7 linked regions of the Homo sapiens genome follow. The protein of the gene in region 6 interacts with the protein of the main gene of each other region in a pairwise test. Each region holds a gene or a part of one and is shown on either strand. Other genes may lie near its edges. The genes, in order: ACTR1B, FOXO3, CSE1L, DNAJC28, SMAD6, MAPK6 and DPPA4.

What was found.
Region 1: the proteins of MAPK6 (region 6) and ACTR1B interact in a two-hybrid assay, tested with the Homo sapiens proteins (one large-scale study listed by BioGRID and IntAct).
Region 2: the proteins of MAPK6 (region 6) and FOXO3 interact in a two-hybrid assay, tested with the Homo sapiens proteins (one large-scale study listed by BioGRID and IntAct).
Region 3: the proteins of MAPK6 (region 6) and CSE1L interact in a two-hybrid assay, tested with the Homo sapiens proteins (one large-scale study listed by BioGRID and IntAct).
Region 4: the proteins of MAPK6 (region 6) and DNAJC28 interact in a two-hybrid assay, tested with the Homo sapiens proteins (one large-scale study listed by BioGRID and IntAct).
Region 5: the proteins of MAPK6 (region 6) and SMAD6 interact in a two-hybrid assay, tested with the Homo sapiens proteins (one large-scale study listed by BioGRID and IntAct).
Region 7: the proteins of MAPK6 (region 6) and DPPA4 interact in a two-hybrid assay, tested with the Homo sapiens proteins (one large-scale study listed by BioGRID and IntAct).

The regions. Positions count from the first base shown.
Region 1 is NC_000002.12:97,654,843-97,658,241, forward strand, and holds the end of ACTR1B (beta-centractin), read right to left. Parts: coding exon 3,382-3,399; intron 3,276-3,381; coding exon 3,101-3,275; intron 2,668-3,100; coding exon 2,606-2,667; intron 2,351-2,605; coding exon 2,310-2,350; intron 2,119-2,309; coding exon 2,016-2,118; 3' UTR 1,097-2,015; downstream 1-1,096. UniProt on the Homo sapiens protein: Component of a multi-subunit complex involved in microtubule based vesicle motility. It is associated with the centrosome.
Region 2 is NC_000006.12:108,678,993-108,683,088, forward strand, and holds part of FOXO3 (forkhead box protein O3), read left to right. Parts: intron 1-834; coding exon of another isoform or gene 835-921; 3' UTR 922-4,096. UniProt on the Homo sapiens protein: Transcriptional activator that recognizes and binds to the DNA sequence 5'-[AG]TAAA[TC]A-3' and regulates different processes, such as apoptosis and autophagy.
Region 3 is NC_000020.11:49,091,062-49,094,726, forward strand, and holds part of CSE1L (exportin-2), read left to right. Parts: intron 1-984; coding exon 985-1,066; intron 1,067-3,078; coding exon 3,079-3,225; intron 3,226-3,665. UniProt on the Homo sapiens protein: Export receptor for importin-alpha. Mediates importin-alpha re-export from the nucleus to the cytoplasm after import substrates (cargos) have been released into the nucleoplasm.
Region 4 is NC_000021.9:33,488,536-33,493,389, forward strand, and holds the start of DNAJC28 (dnaJ homolog subfamily C member 28), read right to left. Parts: upstream 3,182-4,854; 5' UTR 3,067-3,181; intron 2,867-3,066; exon of another isoform or gene 2,531-2,866; intron 890-2,530; 5' UTR 859-889; coding exon 1-858.
Region 5 is NC_000015.10:66,708,736-66,712,235, forward strand, and holds part of SMAD6 (mothers against decapentaplegic homolog 6), read left to right. Parts: coding exon of another isoform or gene 1-3; intron 4-1,659; exon of another isoform or gene 1,660-1,738; intron 1,739-2,932; coding exon 2,933-2,989; intron 2,990-3,500. UniProt on the Homo sapiens protein: Transforming growth factor-beta superfamily receptors signaling occurs through the Smad family of intracellular mediators. SMAD6 is an inhibitory Smad (i-Smad) that negatively regulates signaling downstream of type I transforming growth factor-beta.
Region 6 is NC_000015.10:52,060,419-52,064,514, forward strand, and holds part of MAPK6 (mitogen-activated protein kinase 6), read left to right. Parts: intron 1-880; coding exon 881-1,082; intron 1,083-3,483; coding exon 3,484-4,096. UniProt on the Homo sapiens protein: Atypical MAPK protein. Phosphorylates microtubule-associated protein 2 (MAP2) and MAPKAPK5.
Region 7 is NC_000003.12:109,327,547-109,331,642, reverse strand, and holds part of DPPA4 (developmental pluripotency-associated protein 4), read left to right. Parts: intron 1-830; coding exon 831-1,119; intron 1,120-2,554; coding exon 2,555-2,753; intron 2,754-3,618; coding exon 3,619-3,655; 3' UTR 3,656-4,096. UniProt on the Homo sapiens protein: May be involved in the maintenance of active epigenetic status of target genes. May inhibit differentiation of embryonic cells into a primitive ectoderm lineage.

The sequences.
Region 1 (3,399 bases), on a different chromosome or scaffold from region 6:
GGAGGGTGCCCTAATATGGAGTTCTCCGTGCAAATTCTGCTTTCCCTTTGAGGGCCAGTGCAAGCATAACTGCCTTGTGACCACAAAGCCTCACAAAACGCCTTGGCAGACAGGCCTCAGTACTCTCCTCACTCCTACCTCATCTCCTCAGTCCTGGGGCTGCCCTCACCCCCCACAAACCCCAACTGCCTACAACACACTGCTCTGGTCACCATCTTTCTATGGCTGGCCACCCATCTCCCAGGACACAGCTAACAATCCTCCATGTGCCAGCTCAACCCACCTTTTTTGTTCATCTCACACAATGACCACAGACCACTGACCTTTCCCTGCTGACTGGGCATTGGGTCCCTGCCTTCCTCTCCAGACCCACTGGTCCCAGGTGCTTCTTTGGGCTCTCACATCTGCATAGAATGCCTTCCCCATCCCTGGATAACCTCTGGATCCTTGCAAGTCGGCCTGCCCCACCTGTCGGGCCAGATGACTAACGCCTCGGCCCCCACAACTCTGTACTAAAATGGCTCATCTGTCTTTCTCCCTTGACGTGTGTATTTGTTAGGGCAAGGATATAACTTGTTGACCATTGGCCCCAAACACACGGCACCATCCTGGAAACACTGTAGGTTCTCAAACACTTAAGAAAGTAAAGAGCAGACATTCTCCAAACCCTAATTCCTCACTGCTCTTCTGCCTATTCCTCTAGGGCCTGGCTAAGCTCACAGCCTCTCTGCCTCTCCCTGCCTTCCCCATCCTGACTTGTCTGAAGGCGTGAGCTTGCATCATTGCTGGTGTCCACCAGCCTTAGCCCTGGCTGAATGGGGTGAGCAGAGGTGCTCAAATAGGCCTGTCCAGGGTCCGGGGGCAAAGAAGGTAGCCTGGTTCTACTTCCCCTGGTGGACTGCAGCAGGGGAGGTAACAGGCGAGGGAATTATGCTACAGGGTGAGAGCCCAGCCTCCTGAGGCTTTTTGTGCCACGTTGGCGGGCCAACCACTGAAACCTTCATGCCGCTAAGCTAGAGCCAGTGCCTTGCTGCATTCTCTCTGGTCCTTTCTCTGAAAGTCCCCAGGGATGGAAGAACAAACGATAGCACAGAGAGCCACAAGAAAACAGAGCCACACACTGGGCCTTGTCCATAATTATTACTATAATGATTTACAAAAGTTTTTTTCAGGCAACCGTGTTAAATTATTGTACATATCTGAGAGAGGGAGGTGGGGCCCTGGCCACAGCAAAAGTGACGACCTCTTTCTTGGGTGAGGTAAGAAAATGTCCCCCACCCCCTTTTAGGTCTGACTCCTTATTAAGTGGCTTCCCCTCAATAAATGATGAGCATCAACCCTTTCCCACCCAGGGTGCCGAGGGTAGAGGGAGGAGCAAGTGGATGAAGTGCTCTGAAAAGGATAGTGCAGCGGCTCTAGCCACCGTGCATCCTCTGCCCTGGCTCTGAAGGGCCTGACCCTGGGCTGCACCCCCTTGCTGGGGATGGAAGACCATTCAGTACTCAGCCCTACACCAGGGCATCTACCCAGGAAGATAGGAGGACAGAGTGTGAAAGGGGCTGTGTCACCCTGTCAGGTCACGAACAGGAGGTGGCAATGGATGCAGTGACACACCAGTGGGAGCTGCTGGCTGCCCCTTGCAGCCCACTCCCCAAACTGGCTACCCAGGCATCCAGGCATTCTGGCCCTGGAGCTCAGGGAGGCAGCCCTGAGAGTCGGAGCAGGGAACCACAGGCCTAGCTGGCCCTGCCAGGGGGATACCCACAACAGCCTGACATGGCGCTCAATTCCCACACGCCAGCTCAAGGCTCCTGTCCATGCAGCTCAATGTTACTTGTGTGTGCATGTCCTGTGTAGAGGGGAAGGCTGCAGGGGGGCACTGCTGTGCCACCCACCCAGGGGTTCAGGGCATGCAGGGGACCCTAAGCCTAGTATACGAGCCAAGACCAAAAAGGGTTAAAGGCTCTGTCTCCCCTCCCTCCCCCTCTCCCAACATGCCCCGCCCTCCTTGGGCACTAGAAAGTTTTGCGATGAATAGCACGGGAGCCATCCTCTTCATACTCCTTTTTGGACACCCACATCTTCTTAAAAGTGTCCAGCGAGGCCAGGATGGAGCCGCTGTGGGGATGGAGGGATAGTATTGCTGTGGACCTGTCAGGGAGCCAACCACCTTCCTGGGTGCTCAGAGTTGCATTTCCCTAATTTGGGAGGGAAATCCACCCACCTCCACGTGGCCTAGGCCAACAATGGGAGGAGCATCCAGGGTAAAGTGGTCTCCTCCCAGAGCCCTCCCTTGAGCCCCGCCTCACCCAATCCATGTGGAGTACAGCCGTTCCTGCGGGGCTGAGATCTAGAAGGAGGAAGTGGCCACGTTAACTGTGGATCCCCACCCAGAAGCCATCCTCCCAGCCTTGGGGTCACCTTCCCCAGGTCCTGAAGCCTGACAGCAAAGGCATAAGCTGGGGAGTGGCAGCAGCAGCCTTGGGAAGAACAGGACTAGGTGGACGTGAGCTGGTGAGCGGGTCTGGGGGCAGCATTCAACCTTCCTCCCCATGCCAAGGCTGCCAGCGCCCTAGTGCCCCAGGGGGAGTTTCTGTAACCTCACCTTGATTTTGATATCCTTTGGGGCAAGCTTCTTCACTTCACTGAGTAATCGGTCTCCGAAGCCTGTGAACACAAAGCTGGCTGAGCCTGGGGTCTGCACCCGGCCTCCTCGCTGCTAGCTCCCGCACCCAGCCTTCAGGGCCCCCAGCTACTGCTGGTCCTCTATCAGCAGCTCTTCCCAGGATGAAGGGCAAGGCTGAGAAATGATCCAGCCCCATGGCTGCCTGCGGGCCCTGCGTCCTCACAGAGGCAGCGTGAGATGAAGCCGCACATGCTCCTTGCTCGACTCTCACAATACACTTTAGAGCTTGTGTAAACTTCTCCTCTATTCACAGAGTAAACAAAATTTAATTTTAAATTTTGGTCTGTTAAAAAAAATGTTCATTGAGCACCACCAAAAAGCCAACAGAATATGGCTCTGGGTAGGGGTATACTCTCTGAGGGTCCAGCTGCCCTGGGCCTCGTCTCACCACCACCAACTCTCAAGCCACAGTACCTTTGAAAAGCGTTGAGCCACCTGAGAGCACGATGTTGGCGAACAGCGTCCGGCGCAGGTCCATGTCGGACTTGTGTATGGCGAAGGCCACCACCTCATGGAGCCCCTCACTCTCATCCCCGACAAGGTCCGGCTGGAACAGCAGCTCGGGGGCCCGGAATCGTGCAGGCCCCACCTTTAGTGTACAAGATTGAGGCAGACAGGCTTCCTGGAGAAGCGGGCTACCCCTTCCCCCAGGCTGGGCATCGGCTGCCACTCCAGTGCCAGGCCCGGCCACTTACATCAAGCGTGCTGCCGTC
Region 2 (4,096 bases), on a different chromosome or scaffold from region 6:
TCCCGAGTAGCTGGGACTACAGGTGCCCGCCACCGCGCCCGGCTAATTTTTTGTATTTTTAGTAGAGACGGGGTTTCACCATGTTAGCCAGGATGGTCTCGATCTCCTGACCTCGTGATCTGCCCTCCTCAGCCTTCGAAAGTGCTGGGATTACAGGCGTGAGCCACTGCGCCCGGCCCATTTCTTAAATTCTTAAGATGGCCCGCTTAGTAATTACTTACTCTTTTTATGGTGGGGAATAGGGGAGTCAAGATTACCCACACCCAGCACTGCAGACTTATTAAGGCCTTTATAGAAAGTGGCCATTTCATCTCCACTGGTGTTGGGGTATTCGTGGAAAAGGGTGGTAAGCAATTCAGTTAGTCCACATAGCCAGTAGGGAAGAACCAGAAAAGTATAACTCATCTACTTAGGATGAGCGGCTCTCCTTGTTTTAGCATGGAAAGTCCCATGTCCTAGGAAATCCCTCAGTCCGGAAGTCTAGAACAGAATCTTATCTGCACCTTGAACATCTAACTAAAAAGGACCCACCAAAACACCCCTAATATGGCTTTCTTTATCTCCCAAAGTGAATGATCCCATTCCCTTTGGGCTTTTCAACTTCAGAGCATTTTGTAATAAGGACAACATGAGAAATAAGGTAAGTAATCTTTGTGCTTTGTCCTTAGGATTTCAGACCTTTGAAACTGGTGTAGCAGAGCAGCTTTGCTGTGCTAGCCCTGGGCTCTGAGGTGGGTGAGGGAGATGGAAGGCCTTGACAGGTGGCCCTCAGGTGCCCACTATTGCTGTTGCAGTGCCCTTAATGATCTCTGGTTTTCTTTTCTCCTCCTTTAGACCCTCAAACTGACACAAGACCTACAGAGAAAACCCTTTGCCAAATCTGCTCTCAGCAAGTGGACAGTGATACCGTTTACAGCTTAACACCTTTGTGAATCCCACGCCATTTTCCTAACCCAGCAGAGACTGTTAATGGCCCCTTACCCTGGGTGAAGCACTTACCCTTGGAACAGAACTCTAAAAAGTATGCAAAATCTTCCTTGTACAGGGTGGTGAGCCGCCTGCCAGTGGAGGACAGCACCCCTCAGCACCACCCACCCTCATTCAGAGCACACCGTGAGCCCCCGTCGGCCATTCTGTGGTGTTTTAATATTGCGATGGTTTATGGGACGTTTTAAGTGTTGTTCTTGTGTTTGTTTTCCTTTGACTTTCTGAGTTTTTCACATGCATTAACTTGCGGTATTTTTCTGTTAAAATGTTAACCGTCCTTCCCCTAGCAAATTTAAAAACAGAAAGAAAATGTTGTACCAGTTACCATTCCGGGTTCGAGCATCACAAGCTTTTGAGCGCATGGAACTCCATAAACTAACAAATTACATAAACTAAAGGGGGATTTTCTTTCTTCTTTTGTTTGGTAGAAAATTATCCTTTTCTAAAAACTGAACAATGGCACAATTGTTTGCTATGTGCACCCGTCCAGGACAGAACCGTGCATAGGCAAAAGGAGTGGAGCACAGCGTCCGGCCCAGTGTGTTTCCGGTTCTGAGTCAGGGTGATCTGTGGACGGGACCCCAGCACCAAGTCTACGGGTGCCAGATCAGTAGGGCCTGTGATTTCCTGTCAGTGTCCTCAGCTAATGTGAACAGTGTTGGTCTGCTGGTTAGAAACTAGAATATTGATATTTTCAGGAAAGAAATCAGCTCAGCTCTCCACTCATTGCCAAATGTCACTAAAGGGTTTAGTTTTAAGGAGAAAGAAAAGGAAAAAAAAAAAAAACAAAAAAGTCCTGTTTTGCTTTGCAGAACAAATGAACTTACAGGTGAGCATTAAGCTTGCAGTGAGAAATGTGCGAAGAGTAAAAACCCAAGTCAATGCTGAGGCAGTTCTAACTTCACTGTTTTCCTAAATACACATCCTTGATTATTTTCAGCCTTGCTATATAATCTGATCTGCTAGAAGTGTATGAGTGAGAGGCAATAGCATACAAACTGATTTTTTAAATATAAGCTTAGGTTGTAATTGTACAAGTGACTCAATGGAAGTACAAAATAGGGCAGTTTTAACTTTTTTTTCTGCTTCTATGGATTTCATTTTGTTGTGTTTTCAAAAAGTTATGGTGCTGTATAGGTGCTTTCTGTTTAACCTGGAAAGTGTGATTATATTCGTTACCTTCTTTGGTAGACGGAATAGTTGGGACCACCTTTGGTACATAAGAAATTGGTATAACGATGCTCTGATTAGCACAGTATATGCATACTTCTCCAAAGTGATATATGAAGACTCTTTTCTTTGCATAAAAAGCATTAGGCATATAAATGTATAAATATATTTTATCATGTACAGTACAAAAATGGAACCTTATGCATGGGCCTTAGGAATACAGGCTAGTATTTCAGCACAGACTTCCCTGCTTGAGTTCTTGCTGATGCTTGCACCGTGACAGTGGGCACCAACACAGACGTGCCACCCAACCCCCTGCACACACCACCGGCCACCAGGGGCCCCCTTGTGCGCCTTGGCTTTATAACTCCTCTGGGGGTGATATTGGTGGTGATCACAGCTCCTAGCATAATGAGAGTTCCATTTGGTATTGTCACACGTCTCCTGCCTCGCTTGGGTTGCCATGTTTGAGCGATGGCCCTGTTGATTTCACCCTGCCTTTTACTGAATCTGTAAATTGTTGTGCAATTGTGGTTATAGTAGACTGTAGCACATTGCCTTTTCTAAACTGCTACATGTTTATAATCTTCATTTTTAAAGTATGTGTAATTTTTTTAAGTATGTATTCTATTCATATGGTCTGCTTGTCAGTGAGCCAGACTTGCTTACTATATTCCTTTATAATAATGCTAGCCACTTCCTGGATTCTTTAGTAATGTGCTGTATGCAAGAACTTTCCAGTAGCAGTGAAGGAGGGTTGCCTCTCCAAGCTTCCTAAGGGATGCTGCCCTGTGTGGGGATGCATTGCAGAGGCACTAGTAGCATGGGGGCTAGAGTGGGGAGCGAGATGTAAAAGGGTGGGGGGATAGGAGAATTCCAGAGTGCTTCCAGCATTAGGGTCCTGAGAACTTCTGAGTTCAGAGAAACATGCAAAGTGACTAACAAAATAGCTACTTACCTTTGCAGTTTTACAGACCCTGGGAGCTGCTTTGGGAGTGAGAAAGGCAACCCTCCAATGTGTTTCAACTTTAAAATGTTGAATTCTTTTCAGACATGGTATCTCATTTATTCTCCTTTTCTAGCGTTTGTTGAATTTCAGGCAGAATGTCTTACAGAATGTCCTAGAACCAGATTATCATTTAATCTGAAACAGCTGAGGAAGGGACAGAGAAGGTACAAGGGCAAGGCAGCACAAAACAGATCAGGAGAATGAAGAGGGAATGCTTTGGTTTTTTGTTTTGTTTTGTTTTTTCTTTTTCAAGTAACTAAAACAGCATCTACATGTAGAGTGTTGTGGAGAGCTGAGACCAGGGTAAAGTCAAGTGCAGCATCAGTACTGCGAGACCCACCAGCCCCTGGAGAGGGTCAGCCGAGAATCTGGTAGTGAAGCCTGTCTAGGGTCCCGGCACCCTCACCCTCAGCCACCTGCAGAGAGGCCAGGGCCCCAGAGACTAGCCTGGTTCTGAAGTGGGCAGGGGTGCTGCCAGAGCCCTCTGCCCCTTATGTTGAGACCCTGCTTTCAGGACAGGCCAGCCGTTGGCCACCATGTCACATTCTGAGTGAGTGTCACAGGTCCCTAACAATAATTTTCTGATCTGGAGCATATCAGCAGAATGCTTAGCCTCAAGGGGCCTGGCAGCTGTAATGTTTGATTTATGATGAGAACTATCCGAGGCCACCCTTGGCCTCTAAATAAGCTGCTCTAGGGAGCCGCCTACTTTTTGATGAGAAATTAGAAGAGTACCTAATGTTGAAAACATGACATGCGCTCTTGGGATCTGCTGTTCTCTCCAGGGCTCCAGAACCTGATACCTGTTACCAAAGCTAGGAAAGAGCTTTATCACAAGCCTTCACTGTCCTGGCATGAGAACTGGCTGCCAGGCTCAGTGTACCCCATTAACTGTGAATGAATCTGAGCTTGGTTTCCTTTATTGCTTCC
Region 3 (3,665 bases), on a different chromosome or scaffold from region 6:
AGAAGGTAGCTAAAACCCTTAGACTTTATGGTTGCAGATACATTTTTTATCCGTTTTAAACTTTATGCAAAAAATACTTGGCCACGTGTGGAGGTTCATGCCTGTAATCGCAGCACTTTGGGTGGCCAAGGGAGGCCGATCGCTTGAGCTCAGGAGTTCAAGACCAGCCTGGGCAACATGGCGAAACCCTGTCCCTACGAAAAGTACAACAAAATTAGCCAGGCATGGTGGCATGTGCCTGTAGTCGCAGCTGCTTGGGAGGCTGAAGTAGGAGCATCACCTAAGTCCCAGAGGTTGAGGCTGCAGTGAGCCAAGATTACACCCACTGCACTCCATCCTAGGTGACAGAGTGAGACCCTGTCTCAAAAAAAAAAAAGAAAATATTGTAAGGGCCTGGTGCAGTGGCTCTCATCTGTAATCCCAGCACTTTGGGAGGTGAAAGTGGGAGTATTCCTTGAGTCCAGGAGTTAACGACCAGCCTGGGCAACATGGTAAGACCCTGTCTCTACAAAACAGCCAAGCATGGTGGTGTGTGCCTGTAGCCCCAGCTACTCAGGAGGCTGAGGTGGGAGGATCACTTGACCCTGGGAAGTTAAGGCTGCGTGAGCTGTGATCACGCTCCTGCACCCAGCCTAGGTGATAGAGTGAAACCTTCTCACAAGAAAAAAGAAAATATTTTAAGATGTTTGTGTTCTCCAAACATTAAGTTAGTGTTAGTCATATTGTGTTCCAGAGGTTGGTTTATGGTTGGATACCAAAACATTTTTTCAGTAGAGAGAATATTATAAGGAAATATAAATCAAAGAGAGACAGCATGTAAAGGTCTATGACAGAAAGACAAGTTTTCTATTTACTAGAAGGCAGGTATTGATGCCACAGCCTTTGGATGTTAATGATTAAGCATAGGTTTATTTTGCAGACTTATCAGTTACCAGTTTAGTGCGTGAGTTCTCTATGCTGATATTCTGCATCTTCTTTCAACAGGTTTTTTAGTCTTTATTAATTTGTATTGCATAAAATATGGGGCACTAGCACTACAAGAAATATTTGATGGTATACAACCAAAGTAAGTTTGTTTTTATTATTTTTTAAAGGAAGAAAATGTTTTGACTTTTTTTTTAGTACAAATCAGTATCTCTGTCTTATAGATGATGATGTGGTTCTTGGTATGGAGATAGTGTCTATGGTTTTCAAAATATTCTTAGGTATTGGGAGTAAAGAAAAAGTAATCCTGGCCCAGCATGGTGGCTCACGCCCGTAATCCCACACTCTGAGAGGCTGAGGAGGGCGGATTTAGCTCAGGAGTTTGAGACCAGCCTGGGCAATATAGTGAGACTCCATCTCAAAAAAAGAAAAAACACCCTGGAATCATTGTTCTAATCCTCTAGATTAGAGGACCATCTACTCTACACACTGGCATTCTCCACAGCCAGTGTTCTATATTATGTTAAATGGTCAGTGTTGTCTCCAGGAGCCTGCCTTATTAAAACTAACAGCAGAAAACACCACATGTTCTCACTCATAGGTGGGAATTGAACAATGAGAACACTTGGACACAGGGCGGGGAACATCACACTCTGGGGCCTGTCGTGGGATGGGGGGCAGGGGAAGGGAGGGCAGAGGGAGGGATAGCATTAGCAGAAATACCTAATGTAAATGACGAGTTAATGGGTGCAGTAAACCAACTTGGCACATGTATACATATGTAACAAACCTGCACGTTGTGCACATGTACCCTAGAACTTAAAGTATAATTAAAAAAAAAAACCAGAATTTTCCTTCCCCCTTTTTTAAAAAATCGTGCTAATCCATATCGTTCCAATTTTAGTATATGTGCTGCTAATGCAAACACAGCAGAATTTTTCAAATGAGAAATACTTAGGACCAATAAATTAACTTTGTTTTTGACTTATCTGGTATATATGCAAAGAATGTATTTAGGTGGCATTTCCCATTAGTAGGGAATAAAACAATTATAACGATAAGATAAAGAACAACTCTTAGGGAAAATTTCTTCGGGGACAGTTAGATCCCTGTACCTCAGTTATGTCTCAAAAATTCTACATTGACTAAAAAATGAATTACTCTGGAAAGGAGACCAGAAAACATGGCTTCCGGCAGTAGGGGATTTTGAGGAAATCTCATGCACTGCTAGTGGGAGCCTGAATTAGCCTGATCTTTCTAGAGAGCAAAATGTATGCACTTTTTATCCAGAGCATTAGAATTGCCATACCCTTTGAGCCATATTTCCACTTCAAAGAATTGGTTCTATTAACGCATAAACTGAGGATTTTGCATCATTTAGAATTACGGAAAACTTCACTTCTAGCATGTTTGCAACAACATAGAATGATTGGCCGAATTATTTTAAATAGCCATTAGCATTTATGTACCTGCAGGTATGTAAGCAAAGACAGTTGGGAAGCTTATAACCCAAAAATGTTAAAACTAGTTGTTTCTGGGTGGTGGGATGATTCCTTTTTTCCCTCCTTGCTCCTCTCTCTTTTTTTTTTTTTTTTCTTTTTTTTTTTTGAGACTGGCCAGGTGTAATTTTTAAAGAAAAAAGCAGAGAGGGCCAGGAATGGTGGCTCACGCCTGTAATCCTAGCACTTTGGGAGGCTGAGGCAGGTGGATCACCTGAGGTCAGGAGTTCGAGATCAGCCTGGCCAACACAATGAAACCCCATCTCTACTAAAAATACAAAAATTTGCCGGGCGTGGTGGTGGGCACCTGTAATCCCACCTACTCAGGGGGCTGAGGCAGGCAAATTGCTTGAACCCAGGAGGTGGAGGTTGTAGTGAGCTGAGATCACACCGTTCCACTCCAGCCTGGGCAACAAGAGCGAAACTCCGTCTCAAAAAAAAAAAGAAAAGAAAAAGATTATGGCATTTGGCTACAGGGTAGAGGTGTGATGGGGTTTTTTTATGTTTTGACTTTCAGTCTCTTCAGATGATCAAAAACAGCAGTCTTGTTATTTAGTAATTTATCATATTCATAAGAAGTAACTAACATCTAAGCATTTTACTATTTCATTATAGTGATAATCTAATATTAAGTTGATTTATTTTGCTTTAATAGAATGTTTGGAATGGTTTTGGAAAAAATTATTATTCCTGAAATTCAGAAGGTATCTGGAAATGTAGAGAAAAAGATCTGTGCGGTTGGCATAACCAAATTACTAACAGAATGTCCCCCAATGATGGACACTGAGTATACCAAACTGTGGTAAGTACTTCATTTTAATATTTTTGTAAGTTACAGCTTCCTTCCCATATGACTGCAAAATTAACAAAGCTTATTCTCTTGGGGGCCAAGAGAATCTTGGTCTGATCTCAGCTTCTCCACAATCAGATCCAAGACATGATTTCTGGATCCTTCTGGGCTTAGAATGATCTTGTTTCCTGCTTCTTTTTCAGGGGGATTCATGGACCCCTTTAAGAGTCTGATCTAGGTGATCTCTAAGACAATTTTATGACAGAAGCCCAACTAAACTGACTTATCTTTAAGGGGAAGAACTGAATAAGCCAAGAAAAGAACCATCTTAATTTCAAAGGTCCCCTTTTATTCTTGAGACTATGAGTCTGTAATTTTGTGTCTCTGAGCAATTGCTGGTTTTAAGTCTTCCGAGTATTTTCTTGACCTTTTTATCTCTTGCTTTCTTCCAA
Region 4 (4,854 bases), on a different chromosome or scaffold from region 6:
TGTCATTGGATTCCCAAGTTTTTTCCTAGACACTAAAATTGCCTCTCTGAGTTGCTCAATAGTATCGCTTATTTCCTTTTGCTTAAGGATCCATTCTGGTTGGTATCCATTATCGATCAGTATTCGGTTCAGGTTGTGAGTCATGGGATCAATGTAAGAACAGTCAGAAAACTTTTTCAGAGGTTTTCCTTTCCCACTGAGATTGTCAAAGTCTCCTTTTGCCATGGATTCTTGAATGAGGTCCTCCACTAAACGTTCTATAGCTTGCGTTATCTTTTGCTGTTTGCTCTGTCTTATATTTTTAACAATTACACTATCAGGAAAATACTGGCTTTGTAGTTTCTGCTTTTGATATTCCATCACTTGTTCAGCAGCACGGTCTGCCCTAAATTGCCTATAATGCTTCTCTCGTTGAGTTGGAGTCCCAAAACCAATACCTTCAAAACTTAAATAATGTCGGTGTTGGGGTGTTTTATATTTGAATTTTTCTACATCTTCTTCTTCTTCACCTTTACTCTGACTGGCATTTGTTTGTTCTATCACATGGGAGAGCACCTTTCTATAAGCTTTTTCAATCCTTATAAATGTTGCAGAATCAGCAGTATTAGAGCCACTGTCAGGATGATATTGCTTGGCAAGCTTATGAAAAGATTCCCTGACTTCATCTGCAGAGCATCCTTCCTCCACGTTCAGCAGTCTATAATATTCTCTGATCTTCTTTTTGGATTTATGGGTTGACATCATTCTATTTCTAATGATACCAAAATATGGAAGCATTTTCACTCGATTAGGAATCACTGTAGCCTTTATCAGGTGAGATCTTAAGATCTGAGCCATCATCACATACATTGTATTCATTATTGTACCCAGAGTTCTTCCTAGCAATGACCTATAAAACGACAACAAATATAGGTTGAACAAAGTTGTATTATCAGTTAATTTCTTATTTTCAGCAATAAGGTAAAAGATACAGCATGAATTTATAAGTACAACAAGGGGCAGTTCTTTTGAATGCTGCTGTCAACTTTTTCCTTTTTTTTTTTTTTTTGAGACAGAGTCTCGCTCTGTCACCCAGGCTGGAGTGCAGTGGTGCCTCCACCTCCAGAGCCACGCCTAGCTAATTTTTTTGTATTTTTAGTAGAGAAGGGGTTTCACCATATCGCCCAGGCTGGTCTGGATATCCTGACATGGTTATCTGCCCGCCTCGGCCTCCCAAAGTGCTGGGATTACAGGTATGAGCCACTGCGCTCAGCCTTTTTTTTTTTTTTTTTTGTCTGAGACAGGGTCTTGCTCTGTTGCCCATGCTGGAGTGCAGTGGCACAATCGTGGCTCACTGCAGCATCAACCTCCTGGGCTGAAGTGATCCTCCCACCTCTGCCTCTCATGTTGCTAGGACTACAGGCGTGCACCACCACACCTGGCTAATTTCTGTATTTTTGTAGGGATGGGGTTTCGTCATGTTGCCCACCCTGGTCTCCAACTCCTGAGCTCAAACGATCTGCCAGTTTCTGCCTCCCAAAGTGCTGGGATTATAGGGGTGAGCCACTGTGCCCAGCCACATTCTTTTTTCTTTTCTTTTCTTTTCTTTTTTTTTTTTTTGAGACAGAGTCTCACCCAGGCTGGAGTGCAATGGCATGATCTCGGCTCACTGCAACCTCTGCCTCCCGGGTTCAAGCGATTCTCCTGCCTCAGCCTCCCAAGTAGCTGGGATTACAGGTGCACGACACCACTCCTGGCTAATTTTTGTATTTTTAGTAGAGACGGCGTTTCACCGTGTTAGCCAGGATGGTCTCGATCTCCTGACCCTGTGATCTGCCCGCCTCGACCTCCCAAAGTGCTGGGATTACAGGCGTGAGCCACCGCACCCAGCCCCACCAGCTGCATTCTTATAGCTATATTTCACTGATGTGGGCAGAAAAGTGGAAGCTGATGAAGTTTAGTGTTAACATATTGTGGGGCCAGGCACGGTGGCACACGCCTGTAATCCCAGTACTTTAGGAGGCCGAGGTGGGTGGATCACCTGAGGTCAGGAGTTCGAGATCAGCCTGGCTAACATGGCAAAACCCTGTCTCTACTAAAAATACAAAAATTAACTGGAGGTTGCAGTCCCAGCTACTCGGGAGGCTGAGGCAAGAGAATCGCTTGAACCCGGGAGGTGGAGGTTGCAGTGAACCGAGATCGTGCCACTGCACTCCAGCCTGGGCAACAGAGTGAGACTCTGTCTCAAAAAAATATAGATAGATAGAATCTGGATTCTACCCCTCACTAACTAACCGTATATTTTACAAGTGGAAAGTTCTTAGAGATCATCTAATCCAATCTTCTCATTTAATGAGAAAACGTAGGTCCGGAAGGTTAAGCAATTTAACCAAGTCCCATAACAAGGTGTAAGCAAAATGGTTAGGGGTGGGCACAGTAAAAAAGGAGGCTTGCTTAACTGTCTATACCTCCAGCCGATTATAAACTGCACGAGAGTCTGCATCATCTCAAGAAGTCTTCTCATAAGACGACTTATGGACAAGGTACGTACCTGGTCTGATACTGGATTGAATAGAATCAAGTGTCCAAAAGACTTTAAGCTCCACAGCTCGCTAGGAAGGAGCTATCTGCCAGAGGCCAGAAAAACCATGATGAATTGTGAGGCCTCCCAACACGTTTGCTGCTATTGCAATAACATGGTCTCGAAGAGGAGGAAGACTTGTACACTGACAATGGCCAAAAAATACTGGAAGTGGCTTAATTGGAATTGGGATATATAAACGCTAAAACGGAGCTCCTGAGACCCCCTATTTTCTAGGCAATCGGTGCCAACGGTCTGGGAGCCGGCTGCGAAGGTGGTTATCATGGCAAGGGAGGTCGGTCCTGCCCCGCCCCCTCCTCACCTGCGCAGACCTGGGGTAGGGGTTCCGCGGCTCCCGCCCCCCTGCCGCGCCTCTGCGCATGCGTGCGCGGTCCGCCCTTCACTGCGGGTGTCCCTCCCACCGCCTCCAGCTGGTGCCTCCGCCGGGCTAGACCATTTGCCACTTTACACTGAGGGGCTCGGGGGTACGGAAGGCAGAATCGTACCTGATTGGGACAGGTGACCTTACCAGGAAAACGGACAATCTTCCGCCAAACGAACTTTACCCCGGAGGACCCAGGCAGGGCACCTCGGGAGCCTTCGTCCCGACCGGGGACCACCAGCTCCACCTCCGTCCCCGCCCCGAGCGGAGGTGGTCCGGCCGATTGGGATTGTGGGAGATGTAGTTCGCTAGAAGGGGCGATGTGCGCCTGCGCCTCTCGGGAGGGACTTAGGGGGCGTCGAAAATGATGTAAAGACCGAGTTGGCGGCGTGGGGAGTTGTGGCTCGGAGGGCGAGGGTAACTTTCTGGGGGCAGGGGAAGGCAAGGCTGTTTCCCCGGAACGGGACCGGAACAGGTTTATTCGGGGTCACAGAAGGAGTCACCTGCGCAGATACATGAGGCTTAAAACCTGCCCTTTTATTAATTCAAGTACTGTTGAGGGGCTGGCGACAGGCCAGAGGACAAAATCAAAATAGGGATCTTCTGGCTTGGAGTTCAACCACTGACGTGGGGACTGAGCATTTCCCCTCTCTGTACAGGAAGCAAGTTTTTTAACAAGGAAAAAGAAAAAGGATAAAAAGAAAAAGGCAGAGGCTTGGGAGTTTTCAGATCTGGGTTGAAAATCCTGTTTCTTCTGCTTGCACCTTAGGCAAGATACCTGCAAAATGAGAGTTGCAATAAATAGTAAACTATAGTAAATAGTATGCCATTGTGCTAAGTGCTTTATGTATATTCTCATTTACTTTTTTTTTTTTTTTTTTGAGACAGAGTCTCGCTCTGTCGCCCAGGCTGGAGTGTGGTGGCGCGATCTCGGCTCGCTGCAACCTCCACCTCCCGGGTTTAAGCTATTCTCCTGCCTCAGCCTCCCGAGTAGCTGGAATTACAGGCGCGCACCACCATGCCCAGCTAATTTTTTTGTATTTTTAGTGGAGACCAGGTTTCACCATGTTGGCCAGGCTGGTCTCGAACCCCTGAGCTAAGGTGATCTGCCTGCCTCGGCCTTTCAAAGTGCTGGGATTACAGGCATTCATTTAATCTTTACAACAGCCCTCTGAGATAAATGCTGTTATTTTCCCTATTTTACATATAATGAAATAATAATTGTATCAACTTCATTGACTTTTTTAGGGGGAGAATTACACAATGTATGTAAACCACTTGGCACTGTGCCTCGCACATTAAGCAATATTTTTTGTTATGACTGTGTCTCCTAAAAGGAGCCAGAAATAGGTATTAGCCTCCTCAGCTTCTACATCATAAACATTAGAATCATTTATTGCCATCTATGTAGGAACACAGAAAAAGATACAGTATAAACTCTGATTCTGAGGGCTTTAGTTATAAGCAAACAATCAACAAAATAACTCATGTGAAAGAAAATAGGATTTCTGGCCGGGCGCGGTGCTCACGCCTGTAATCCCAGCACTTTGGGAGGCCGAGGCGGGCGGATCACGAGGTCAGGAGATCGAGACCATCCTGGCTAACACGGTGAAACCCCGTCTCTACTAAAAATACAAAAAATTAGCCAGGTGTGGTGGCGGGCGCCTGTAGTCCCACCTGCTCGGGAGTCTGAGGCAGGAGAATGGCGTGAACCCGGGAGGCGGAGCTTGCAGTGAGCCTAGATCGTGCCACTGCACTCCAGCCTGGGCGACAGAGCCAGACTCCGTCTAAAAAAAAAAAGACCTGGCCACTAAAAAATTTTTAAAAAGAAAAATAAGGCCAGACGCAGTGCTCACGCCTGTAATCTCAGCACTTTGGGAGGCTGAGGCAGGTGGATAACCTGAGGTCGGGA
Region 5 (3,500 bases), about 15 Mb from region 6:
AAAGTAAGTTAGTGGTTGCCCAGGGTTTTGGGGTTGGGGTCTAGAAAGTGACTGCCAATGGGGATGGTGTTTCTTTTTGCGATAAAAAAAATGTCTTGTGTTTAGATGGTGGTTGATGGTTGCACAACACTGTGAATATACTCAAAAACCACTGAATGGTATATTTTTAAAAAGGATGAATCTTAGGGTATGTGAATTATATCTCAATTTTTGGAAAGGGTCACCTGATATTGGTCTGTAACTGGCCTCCCCTGTAACACCTGCAGCTACCTTCATGTGTGGCCTTGGGCAGGTCCTTCAGCAAGTGGGACCTTAGTTTCATATCAGTGAAAAGAAGGAATTGAGTTGGGTGAACCCCAAGGCCTCTTCTGTCTTTGACACTCTAAATCCTTGTGTTGTGGGGTGGAGTCTAAAGCCTTCATACTTTTTTAGTTGCCTACAATGGAATTTAGTGATTAGCTTTCAGTCCCTGCAGTTGTTAAACAGTTGTGTGCATACTATTTTGCCAGAGCTAATGGGAGCCTGGTGAGGTCCCTCCTGAACGGTTTGTAGTGCTCCACTAGCTGGCATGTCTCATGGTTCAGGTTCATAGATTTTCTTTCTATCTCACAACATTGGAACTCCCAACTCAGCTATGGCCATGGGTAGCAGGTGTCACAACTCAAGGCCCAGGTAGCTCTTCCAGGTGGGACTTCATGAGCCTTTCCTGCCTTCCACCTTTTGAGTCCCAGGTAAGCAGCCCCTGGAAGAGATGCTGGCATTGGTTACAGAGGCTTGACTCCAGCCACTACTGCCCATAGTTGTCAAGATTCACCTTTGGGGACAAATCTTGGGGGCAGATGTTCAGAGCTCCATGCCATGTGTGGCCTAGACCTCAGCCAGTCAGATTTTTGCAAAAGTAACCCTAAGGAATTGCAGGCTTTCTGATAAGTTCATGGGGGTGGTGGAAAGGGCATGGAGGTCAGAGACCTGGCTTTGGTTCTGGCTCGATACCTAGCTCCTGAGGGAGTCACTTCCACTCACCAGGCCACAGTCTCCTTCTCTGTACAGTGGAAACACTGGCCTCAATTCTCTTTTCCTGTGGAACTCCAGCCCTTCCTATGCCCTGCCTCTTATCCTGAGAGGCTGGTCCTCACTCAAGGCTGGCCTCTAGGCCTGAGAGCCCCCTAGATCCTCTTTCTGCACATCTTTGGCCACAGATGCATTCAACTTTACCATTATCCTCATCCCAGTTGTCTGTGTCCACATTTAGTGAGCGCGTTCTGTGCAGGTGGTGTCCCAGACCCAGCGGGGATGAAGGGGTGTAAGACAGGGCATCTCTTGATTCCACCTTATTGGGTGGCAGAGCAGAGTCAGGCCTGGACTGGAATCCCAGCTCCACCATGACTGGCTCGGGGAACATGCGCAAGTCAGTTTTCTCATCTGTAAAATGGGGATAATAATGTCATCTCATTTAATTTTTGTATTTTGAGAAAGGATTAAATAAAAATAGGTGCCTGATGAGCATAATTAACTACTCTGTACCTGAGGTCTAAAATAGTAAAATTGAAAGTGATTGGCATGGAGTGAGACACAACGTAGACACCGAGCAAATGTTCGCGTCTCTCTCAGTGGCTACTCTGTGATTCACTTTTCCTTCTCCCTAATTTCTGTCCACAGAAAGTCTCTGTTTCTAAACCTCAGAGCTTTGACTTTGTTGGAAGTAACTTTGAGCTGGAAAAGCCGGGGTGGGGAAGAGGTGAGGCCTCATTGGGTGTATGGAGCAAAACAAATGCTCCTGTAACTAATTGTGGCTTATTACAATTGTGAAAAACACTTATTACCCCTTGTGTCATTACTGATACCCGCTTAATAATAGTTATTACCACTGAGAGTTTGTTTTAGTTTGCGATTTGATTGTGTTTAGTTTCATTTACCGAAAATGAAGGGTCATTTCATTCATGCAAATTGTTACTTAGTTTAGCAAATTGTTACTTCCCATAAAGCAAGAAGCTAAGGAATTCTTCTGAAAGCAAAGTATATGTTTTTAAGGAGAAGTATTTTAGGCAAATGAAACCCAAAGAAAAATATCATAGACAATAAGGAATCATAGCATCTGAGCTGTAGAGAGCTTGTGTTCCACCCCTGTCCTTTACAAAAGGGGAGACTGAGGCCAACAGCTGGAAGTGACTGGCTTAAGGCCTATTGAGATAGCTGGGTTTGGCCTTTTGGGTCCTAACCCTTTCTACTGTCCTCCCCTGCACCTAGGAATGCTAGCTCTAATGCAGCTTGTTTGGACACGAGTTTCTGTGTCTGGGCCTTTGCACTCACACTAGGCTTGCCAAATTTAGCAAATAAAATGCAGGATGCCCAGTTAAATTCGAGTATCAGATAAACAACACACCATATTTTAGTATAAGTACACCCCCAATATTGAAAGGGACACACTTATACTACAAAATGATGCCATGTTTATCCAAAACTCAAATGTAACTGAGCATCCGGTATTTTATCCAGCAACCCTGGCTCTGACTTTCCCTGCACTCACGTTTCTCTTGTTAAAGTAGTAACAGTTACTGTTTATGGAGGTGTTTTTGGACAGGGCCAAGAGCTGCACTAAGCATTTTACATACATTATCCCAGCAAACCTGGGAGGTCTAGATGATTATTATCCTCATTTTAGAGCTGAGGAAACAGGCTCAGAGAGGTGAAGTAAGTTGCTTGAGGTCACACAGCCAAAGGTGGCAGAGCTGGGATTGAGCCCATATCTGTCTGTGCCCCAAGCCTGCGGCTTTAACTGTTGAGGGGATTTGGGCAGCAGAGGAGGTGGGACAAAGGGAGGGCTTCCTGGAGGCTGAGTTTATTATTTGGGAAACCAGTAATTAAAAGCATGTAGAACCTGAGGTGTGAGCTCCCCAACCCTGGCAGTGACATGCTGTCTCCTGTCTTCCAGAATCTCCGCCACCTCCCTACTCTCGGCTGTCTCCTCGCGACGAGTACAAGCCACTGGGTAAGTGTGCCCTCCTTCCTACCCTTGCAGAGGTGTGTCCCGAACTGGGTCCTCTTCAGCCCAGTGTCTGTCCAGCCTCAGGGCTGGAGGGCTGGAGGGCTGGAGGGGAGGGGTGAAAGCCGGACTGGTTGCTGTGAAATGGGGTGAAGTTGTACAAACACTCCCACAGTTGGGCCAAAGCAGACCCAGCTTCTGCAGCAGGCTATTTACATCTCGAAATTCCGCGGCTCATCATTAACCTCTCTGTGACCTTTTTAAACATGGGCCTGTCGAAGATGAATGGGTTTTGACTTATGCATCTCACCGGAGGTGGGTTGGCATTTCTGTGTCTCTTTCCTCTCTCTTGGGCCCCCCAGCCTTGGGTTATTCTCCTTTAGAGTGTATTAATTAGTAGTATGACAAATAGGTTGGGCATGAAGTCTTTGTTGAGAGGAGCTGTACATTTTCCCCCTTTTTAAGCCAAGATGTTCACTTGAGCAGAAACAACAATTGGAGTGTTAAAAAGGAATGT
Region 6 (4,096 bases):
GACCGAGAGCATAAAGAGAAGGCCAGATAGCAAAGGTCACAATGAAATTGTTTAGTATGAATTTGTAATGAGCCAGATATGGGATATTGCAGCTAGTTTTCATCAGTTTTGTGTGGCCAGGGAGCAGAGAGAGTAGATGGTGGTGGTGATCCAGGGTTGAAGGTTGATATCATAAGGCATAGAAGTGTGTGGCTGGTGTAAATATAGCTTTCAGGCTGCGTGAGGAACTAAGGAAGGCCTACTAGACTATTTTATGGGAAGAACTGGATTTGTGGTTAACCAGAGTCCTAAGATGTGCAAGGTCAGTGTGTGAACTATGCTGGAGTGTGATGTGAAGCAGAGATCAAGAAATTAGTACAACAGAGATGTTTTACTGTTGTACTTCCCATCAGTGAAGGATGGGAAAGGGCTTTTATTACATACCAGACACTATGATTACATCTCATTTTTGTACCTTATGAAATATCTATGTCTACTTTATGCATGAAGAAACTGATGTTCATCAAGTTTTAGTAGCCTATCCAGCACTACAGTGCTAGTAATTGAGTTAAGCCAGTGACTTGCAGAGCTAGGATTAAAACCTATATATTAGGCCGGGATTACAGGCGTGAGCCACCACACTCAGCCAGAAAATCGTTTTTAAGTTGTAAATCAGGTAAGTTTTATTTCTGACAAATTAACTTTTTAATTGTGTAGTCCATTTTTCCCTTTTATAAGATGGGGACCTATTAGTACAATTAAGATGCTCATTTCCTGTTGTGTAGTATGTAGTGCTAAGGTAATCACTTAGCTAGTCATTGAAATAAATGAGATCAACATTTACTGTTTTTCTAAAGGTAAGCAATTCTTTTCTGAAAAACTTTTACCTTTTCCTCTGCAGCACTGGATTTCCTGGAACAAATTTTGACATTTAGCCCCATGGATCGGTTAACAGCAGAAGAAGCACTCTCCCATCCTTACATGAGCATATATTCTTTTCCAATGGATGAGCCAATTTCAAGCCATCCTTTTCATATTGAAGATGAAGTTGATGATATTTTGCTTATGGATGAAACTCACAGTCACATTTATAACTGGGAAAGGTAAATTGATCCTAAATTAGAAAAATAATATTTACTGAACTTTCAGTGGACCATATGTAGTGAGTTTTTTTAAAATTATGTATAAGACATTGTAGAAGTCTTAAAAATTTAGTAATGTAAAGATACAAAAATTAGTCAGGTGTGGTGGCAGGCGCCTGTAGTCCTAGCTACTTGGAGGCTGAGGCAGGAAAATCACTTGAACCCAAGTGGCCGAGGCTGCCGAGATTATGCCACTGCATTCCAGTCTGGGCAATAGAGCAAGACTCCATCTCAAAGAAAAATTTAGTAATGGTCCTTAATATTTATATCTATAAATAGCCGTTAATTAAAACATTTAATAAAGTAATTACTGGTTAGATGATATATGGGAAAAGTTAAATGCTACTTTGAAACATTTTCAAAGTCATTAAGGCATATTTATAAAGTCCTTTAACTGTGATTTTATGAATGTCAAAAATTTAAGATGTTAGATGACAAGACTCAGTCATATCCAATAAAGTATCTCCAGTGTCTCAGTGGTAGTTATATCTTAACATAAAAAGTATTTGATTCATATTAGATGCAGGATTTTTTTTTTTTTTTTTTGAGATGGAATCTCACTCTGTCACCCAGGCTAGAGTGCAGGCTGGAGTGCAGTGATGCAAGCTCAGCTCACTGTCCTGCCTCAGCCTCCCGAGTAGCTGGGATTACAGGTACCCAGCTAATTTTTAGTAGAGGTGGGATTTTATGTTGGCCAGGCTGGTCTCGAACTCCTGACCTCAGGTGATCTGCCTGCCTTGGCCTCCCACAGTGCTGAAATTATAGGCGTGAACCACCGTACTCAGCCAGTATTTGAATCTGTTTTCCTAATGACACAATTAATTTGGGGACACTTAACATAGGTTCAGTAAAAGAGACTTTTTTAGGTCTAAACATTAGTGTATAATGTTATCCATATTTTGATGTTTCATAAAGTGAAATAATTGGATTTCTAGGAAAGTTTGGCTGGGCGCGGTGGCTCATGCCTGTAATCCCAGCACTTTGCGAGGCTGAGGCAGGCCAATTACCTGTGGTCAGGAGTTCGAGACCAGCCTGGCTAACGTGGTGAAACCCGGTCTCTACTAAAAATACAAACATAAGCCAGGCTTGATGGCGGGCTCTTGTAGTCCCAGCTACTCAGGAGGCTGAGGCAGGAGAATCACTTGAACCTGGGAGGCAGCAGTTGCAGTGAGCCGAGATTGCACCACTGCACTCCAGCCTGGGCGACAGAGCAAGACTCCGTTTCAAATAAATAAATAAATACATTTCTGGGGAAGTTTAGATATAATTCTGCTTCAGAGTAGGATGGTAGCTTATAGAGTCATCAGGTGATTTTGATGCTTCAGAGTAGGATGGTAGCTTATAGAGTCATCAGGTGATTTTGATGTATGGCCAAGTTTGGGAACCACTAATGCCAATCTTTTTAATCTTAAGATTTTAAGAAGAAATTTTTTTCCCCCTCCTCAAATGTTGATGTATTGGTATGGTATGTTTACACAAATCTGCAAACTACTTTTTTTCTCCATGTGTCCATTTCTACCCCCTAAATAATGGTTCTTTTCTTTTTTGAGACGGAGTCTCACTCTGTTGCCAGGCTGGAGTGCAATGGTGCCCATCTCTCTGCTCACTGCAACCTCCTGAGTTCAAGCAGTTCTCCTGCCTCAGCCTCCCTACTAGCTGGGACTATAGGCACCCGCCACCATGTTCAGCTAATTTTTGTATTTTTAGTAGTGGGGGTTTCACCATGTTGGCCAGGCTGGTTTCAAACTCCTGACCTCAAGTGATCCATCCACCTTGGCCTTCTTGAAGTGCTAGCATTGCAGGCCTGAGCCACTGCACCTGACCTGCATTTTCTATTTTACCTAGCTAAGTTATCTAATCTCTTTTCTTTTCCCTCAATGATTATACATGTCAGTAATAGGATAGCGCATTCAGCAGCACGTATACACAGGGAGATTTTTGCTATTCATGGTGATGAGTTTTCCAGCAAACCTCCTCCTCTTCTAGTTGCCCTTACTGTAGAGTAAACATTTAGCAAACCTCCTCCTCTTCTAGTTGCCCTTACTGTAGAGTAAACATTTGTAAGGTACCTGATTGAGATTTGAGATCTGCATTTTGTGGCTATGAAGTCTTTTGTTTGCATGGAACTGGTGGACAAAAAACAAATTGGAAATGAAGTTACATACTGCATTGGCAATTACCAAATATATTAACAGAGCTTTCCTATCAAGACTAAGTTCTGGTAGGGCAAGGCAGGCATATTTACTCTCCTATAATTATCCCCTCATAGACCTAGCACAGTGCTGTCACATAGAAGGTACTCGGTGAATTTGAAAATGAAATCATATACGTAGAATAACGCTAGTGTATTGATTTTTTTCAGGTATCATGATTGTCAGTTTTCAGAGCATGATTGGCCTGTACATAACAACTTTGATATTGATGAAGTTCAGCTTGATCCAAGAGCTCTGTCCGATGTCACTGATGAAGAAGAAGTACAAGTTGATCCCCGAAAATATTTGGATGGAGATCGGGAAAAGTATCTGGAGGATCCTGCTTTTGATACCAATTACTCTACTGAGCCTTGTTGGCAATACTCAGATCATCATGAAAACAAATATTGTGATCTGGAGTGTAGCCATACTTGTAACTACAAAACGAGGTCATCATCATATTTAGATAACTTAGTTTGGAGAGAGAGTGAAGTTAACCATTACTATGAACCCAAGCTTATTATAGATCTTTCCAATTGGAAAGAACAAAGCAAAGAAAAATCTGATAAGAAAGGCAAATCAAAATGTGAAAGGAATGGATTGGTTAAAGCCCAGATAGCGCTAGAGGAAGCATCACAGCAACTGGCTGGAAAAGAAAGGGAAAAGAATCAGGGATTTGATTTTGATTCCTTTATTGCAGGAACTATTCAGCTTAGTTCCCAGCATGAGCCTACTGATGTTGTTGATAAATTAAATGACTTGAATAGCTCAGTGTCCCAACTA
Region 7 (4,096 bases), on a different chromosome or scaffold from region 6:
TGTTCCTCCACCCCTAGTTCTAAGAAAGAACAATATTTCCCATCTCTACTTCTCTTTTTTTTCTTTCTTTCTTTCTTTTTTTTTTTTTTTTTTTTTTTTGAGACAGAGTCTTGCACTGTCACCCAGGCTGGAGTGCAGTGGCACCATCTCGGCTCACTGCAACCTTCACTTCCCGGGTTCAAGCAATTCTCCTGCCTCAGCCTCCAGAGTAGCTCGGATTACAGGCGCCTGCCTCAGGTGATCCACCCACTTCGGCCTCCCAAAGTGCTGGGATTACAGGCGTGAACCACTGTGCCTGGCCAGCAATTTTCTTTTTTTCTATTTTTTTCTTTTCATTTCTTTTCTTTTCTTTTCTTTCTTTTTTTTTTTTTTTTTTTTTTTTGAGACAGAGTCTCCCTCTGTCACTTAGGCTGCAGTTCAGGCTGCAACCTCTGCCTCCCTGGTTCAAGTGATGCCCCTGTCTCAGCCCCTGGAGTAGCTGAGATTACAAGCATGAGCCACCATGCCTGGATAATTTTTGTATTTTTAGTAGAGACGGGATTTCACCATGTTGGCCAGGCTGGTCTCGAACTCCTGACCTCAAGTGTTTCACCCACCTTGGCCTCCCAAAGTGCTGGGATTACAGACCTGAGCCACTGGGTGGCCAACTGAGCAATTTTCAAGAAGACAGTACATTGTTATTAACTATGTATAGTTACCAACTTGTACAATAGATCTCTTGAACCTAGTCCTCCTAAGTGAAACTTTGTATTTGATCAAGAGCTCCTTAGGCCATTTTTGTTAGAATTTTAATCTGTATTTTTATCTTTATTATTTAACCCTTTTTGTAGGATTTTCCTAGCACAGCAAAAGAGGCCAAAATCCGGAAATCATTGCAAAAAAAATTAAAGGTGGAAAAGGGGGAAACGTCCCTGCAAAGTTCTGAGACACATCCTCCTGAAGTGGCTCTTCCTCCTGTGGGGGAGCCGCCTGCCCTGGAAAATTCCACTGCTCTCCTTGAGGGAGTTAATACAGTTGTGGTGACAACTTCTGCCCCAGAGGCTTTGCTGGCCTCCTGGGCGAGAATTTCAGCCAGGGCGAGGACACCAGAGGCAGTGGAATCTCCACAAGAGGCCTCTGGTAAGCGCAACATGAAGAGCTTATTCTGGTCCAATGGGGAAATAAGCTTAGTAGATATTAATCACTGGTACATTTTAGGGTATATCAAAATCCCTTTGAGGGCCGGTGATTCCTGGACCCTGCCCACAGAGTTTCTGGTGCAGGTCTAGGGCAGGACCTGAGCATTTATTTGCATTTCTTTTTTTTTTTTCCTTTTTTTTTTTTTTTTTTTTTTTTTTTTTTTGAGACAGTTTCTCCCTTGTTGCCCAGGCTAGAGTGCAGTGGCGCGATCTCAGCTCACCGCAACCTCCACCTCCCAGGTTCAAGCAATTCTCCTGCCTCAGCCTTCCTGAGTAGCTGGGATTACAGGCATGTGCCACCATGCCCGGCTAATGTTGTCTTTTTAGTAGAGATGGGGTTTCTCCATGTTGGTCAGGCTGGTCTCGAACTCCCGACCTCAGATGATCCTCCCACCTTGGCCTCCCAAAGTGCTGGGATTACAGGCGTGAGCCACCGTACCTGGCAAGAGTTTGCATCTCTAACAGTTTCCCAGGCAGTACTAAGGATGCTGGTCTGGGGACCACAGTTTGAGAACCACTGCTCTAAATTATTGATGGCATCAGAAGGGGATAGCAGTCTGGTTTTCTTTCTTTACCCTTTAAGCAATTTAAATTAAAGGCAAGGTCTAAAATTAATTGCCTGCAACTGAGCCCCAGAATGGCATTAATAAGTTATTTAAAATATTTCCCAGCGTTTTCATTGTAAAATGGGTAATACCTACCTTATATGTTGGAAGAATTACAGAAAGTACAACAAAAGAAGACAAACTGCTTAGCATAATCCAATGTGTGTTAAGAGCTGAGACCCCTGAGCTTATTTCATGAAGCCCTTTCCAGACACTCTGGGTTAGTCTTTCTACCATCTGCCCACCTACAACTATACTACTTCCAACTAGATTTTTAAGTTTTAACAGGAACTGTCTTGTATGCTTTTTGTTTTGTTTTGCTTTTGATATGGAGTCTCGCTCTGTCACCCAGGCTGGAGTGCAGTGGTGCAATCTTGGCTCACTGCAAGCACCGCCTCCCGGGTTCACGCCATTCTCCTGCCTCAGCCTCCTGAGTAGCTGGGACTACAGGCCCCCGCCACCACGCCTGGCTAATTTTTTGTATTTTTAGTAGAAACGGGGTTTCACTGTGTTAGCCAGGATGGTCTCGATCTCCTGACCTCGTGATCCACCCGCCTCGGCCTCCCAAAGTGCTGGGATTACAAGCGTGAGCCACTGCGCCCAGCTTGTATGCTTTTCTAAAGGAGAACAGAATAGAGAAGAGGTTAAGTTAGGATTTCAGGGTTCACATCTTGGAGCTGGTCAATCAAGGGTGATGGGCCATAATGCAGTCTTACATCAGTATGTCATCCTGGTGTGCGGGTACCTGTCTCTTTCCTTTGCCATTGCCAGGTGTCAGGTGGTGTGTGGTCCATGGGAAAAGTCTCCCTGCAGACACAGATGGTTGGGTTCACCTGCAGTTTCATGCTGGTCAAGCCTGGGTTCCAGAAAAGCAAGAAGGGAGAGTGAGTGCACTCTTCTTGCTTCCTGCCTCCAATTTTCCACCCCCGCACCTTGAAGACAATATGTTGTGCCCCAAATGTGTTCACAGGTAATTACCTGATGCTTTTCTACAAACTAAAAGTGGGTGCCGGATTTTCAATTGCAGAAAGTTAAGATATACATTAATCTTAAATAGCCAGGTATTTCAAGCTCAAATTGTCAGTAAAGAGTTTCAAGAAAATTATTACTCAGTTAAGTTTATCCCCAGGAAAAAGAAAGCATTTATGTGTCAGGGTTTAATGCTTCTACCTGGAGACACAGAATTCTGGGAGCAACAAACATTATATAATTACTATATTCAAAGTGTATGCTCTACACAGAAATAATGACTAGCAAAAAACCTCTTCCTTTAAGTAGCCTACAGTCTTAACAGGGATGGTGGGCATGTAAACACCTAGAATAACATGATGAATATCAAAGAAGAGGTTCCTTAAGTTAAGGGAAGAATCGACTAGATGGAAAGGAGAGATCGGTAATTTCTCAGCCTGGGAAACGTAGCAAGACCATCTCCCACAGGAGGAAGTATGTGAATGTGTGATTGGCTTTTCCTTCTTTGGGATATCCTACTTTTTGCTGTGAGTGTTTTGATAATCTCTCTATGCCAAGCAAGTTGAAGAGAACTGAGGAGGTCACTTTGGGTAGTCCTTTAATGACATACTTAGGTTTTTGGGAAAGTGATGAAAAGAGCCCCTCCAAGGCCTCCTGTCCATGGTTGGCACAAGTCAGGGAATATATTACAGAGGCATGATAACTTGGCTGATGATCTTCATTCTTGAATGACAGGATCACAGGCTTGCTACCTATGATCCTAAAGTTGTAAGGGCAATTTCAACAGCATTCCAGCAGCGGGTTTCTTGGCTATTTTTAATATTTCTTCATTCTTTTTAAAAACAAATACTTTATTTGCTTTATAGGAACAAGGTCTTAATAAAAAGCCTCCAATGGGAATAGAATATCAGGAAAAAGGCCACATCTATGGTAATTAATGGCAGAAAAGCTGGAGAGTTGGATTCTGCGGTGCTGCTGACAGGTGAACTCTGGTCCTCTGCACCTGTTTATGGGCCATGCAGACTGGTGGGGTGGCAGATGTTAGCCTAAGACCCCTAGCAGTGCCTGTTGCTTTGTGAGTGGAGATAGAGACTCTTACATTTAAAAATGGAAAAACATTTCACAAATTACCATAAATTGTAGTTAATATGTAGAAAAACTCATTCATACTACTTTTCTAAAATAGACATGACTTCAGCAGCAGCTTTTTTTTGTTGTATTTTGAGACAGTGTCTCACTGTTGCCCAGGCTGGAGTGCAGTGGTGCAATCTCAGTTCAGTGCAATCTCCGCCTCCTGGGTTCAAATGATTCTCCTGCCTCAGCCTCCTGAGTAGCTAGGTACAG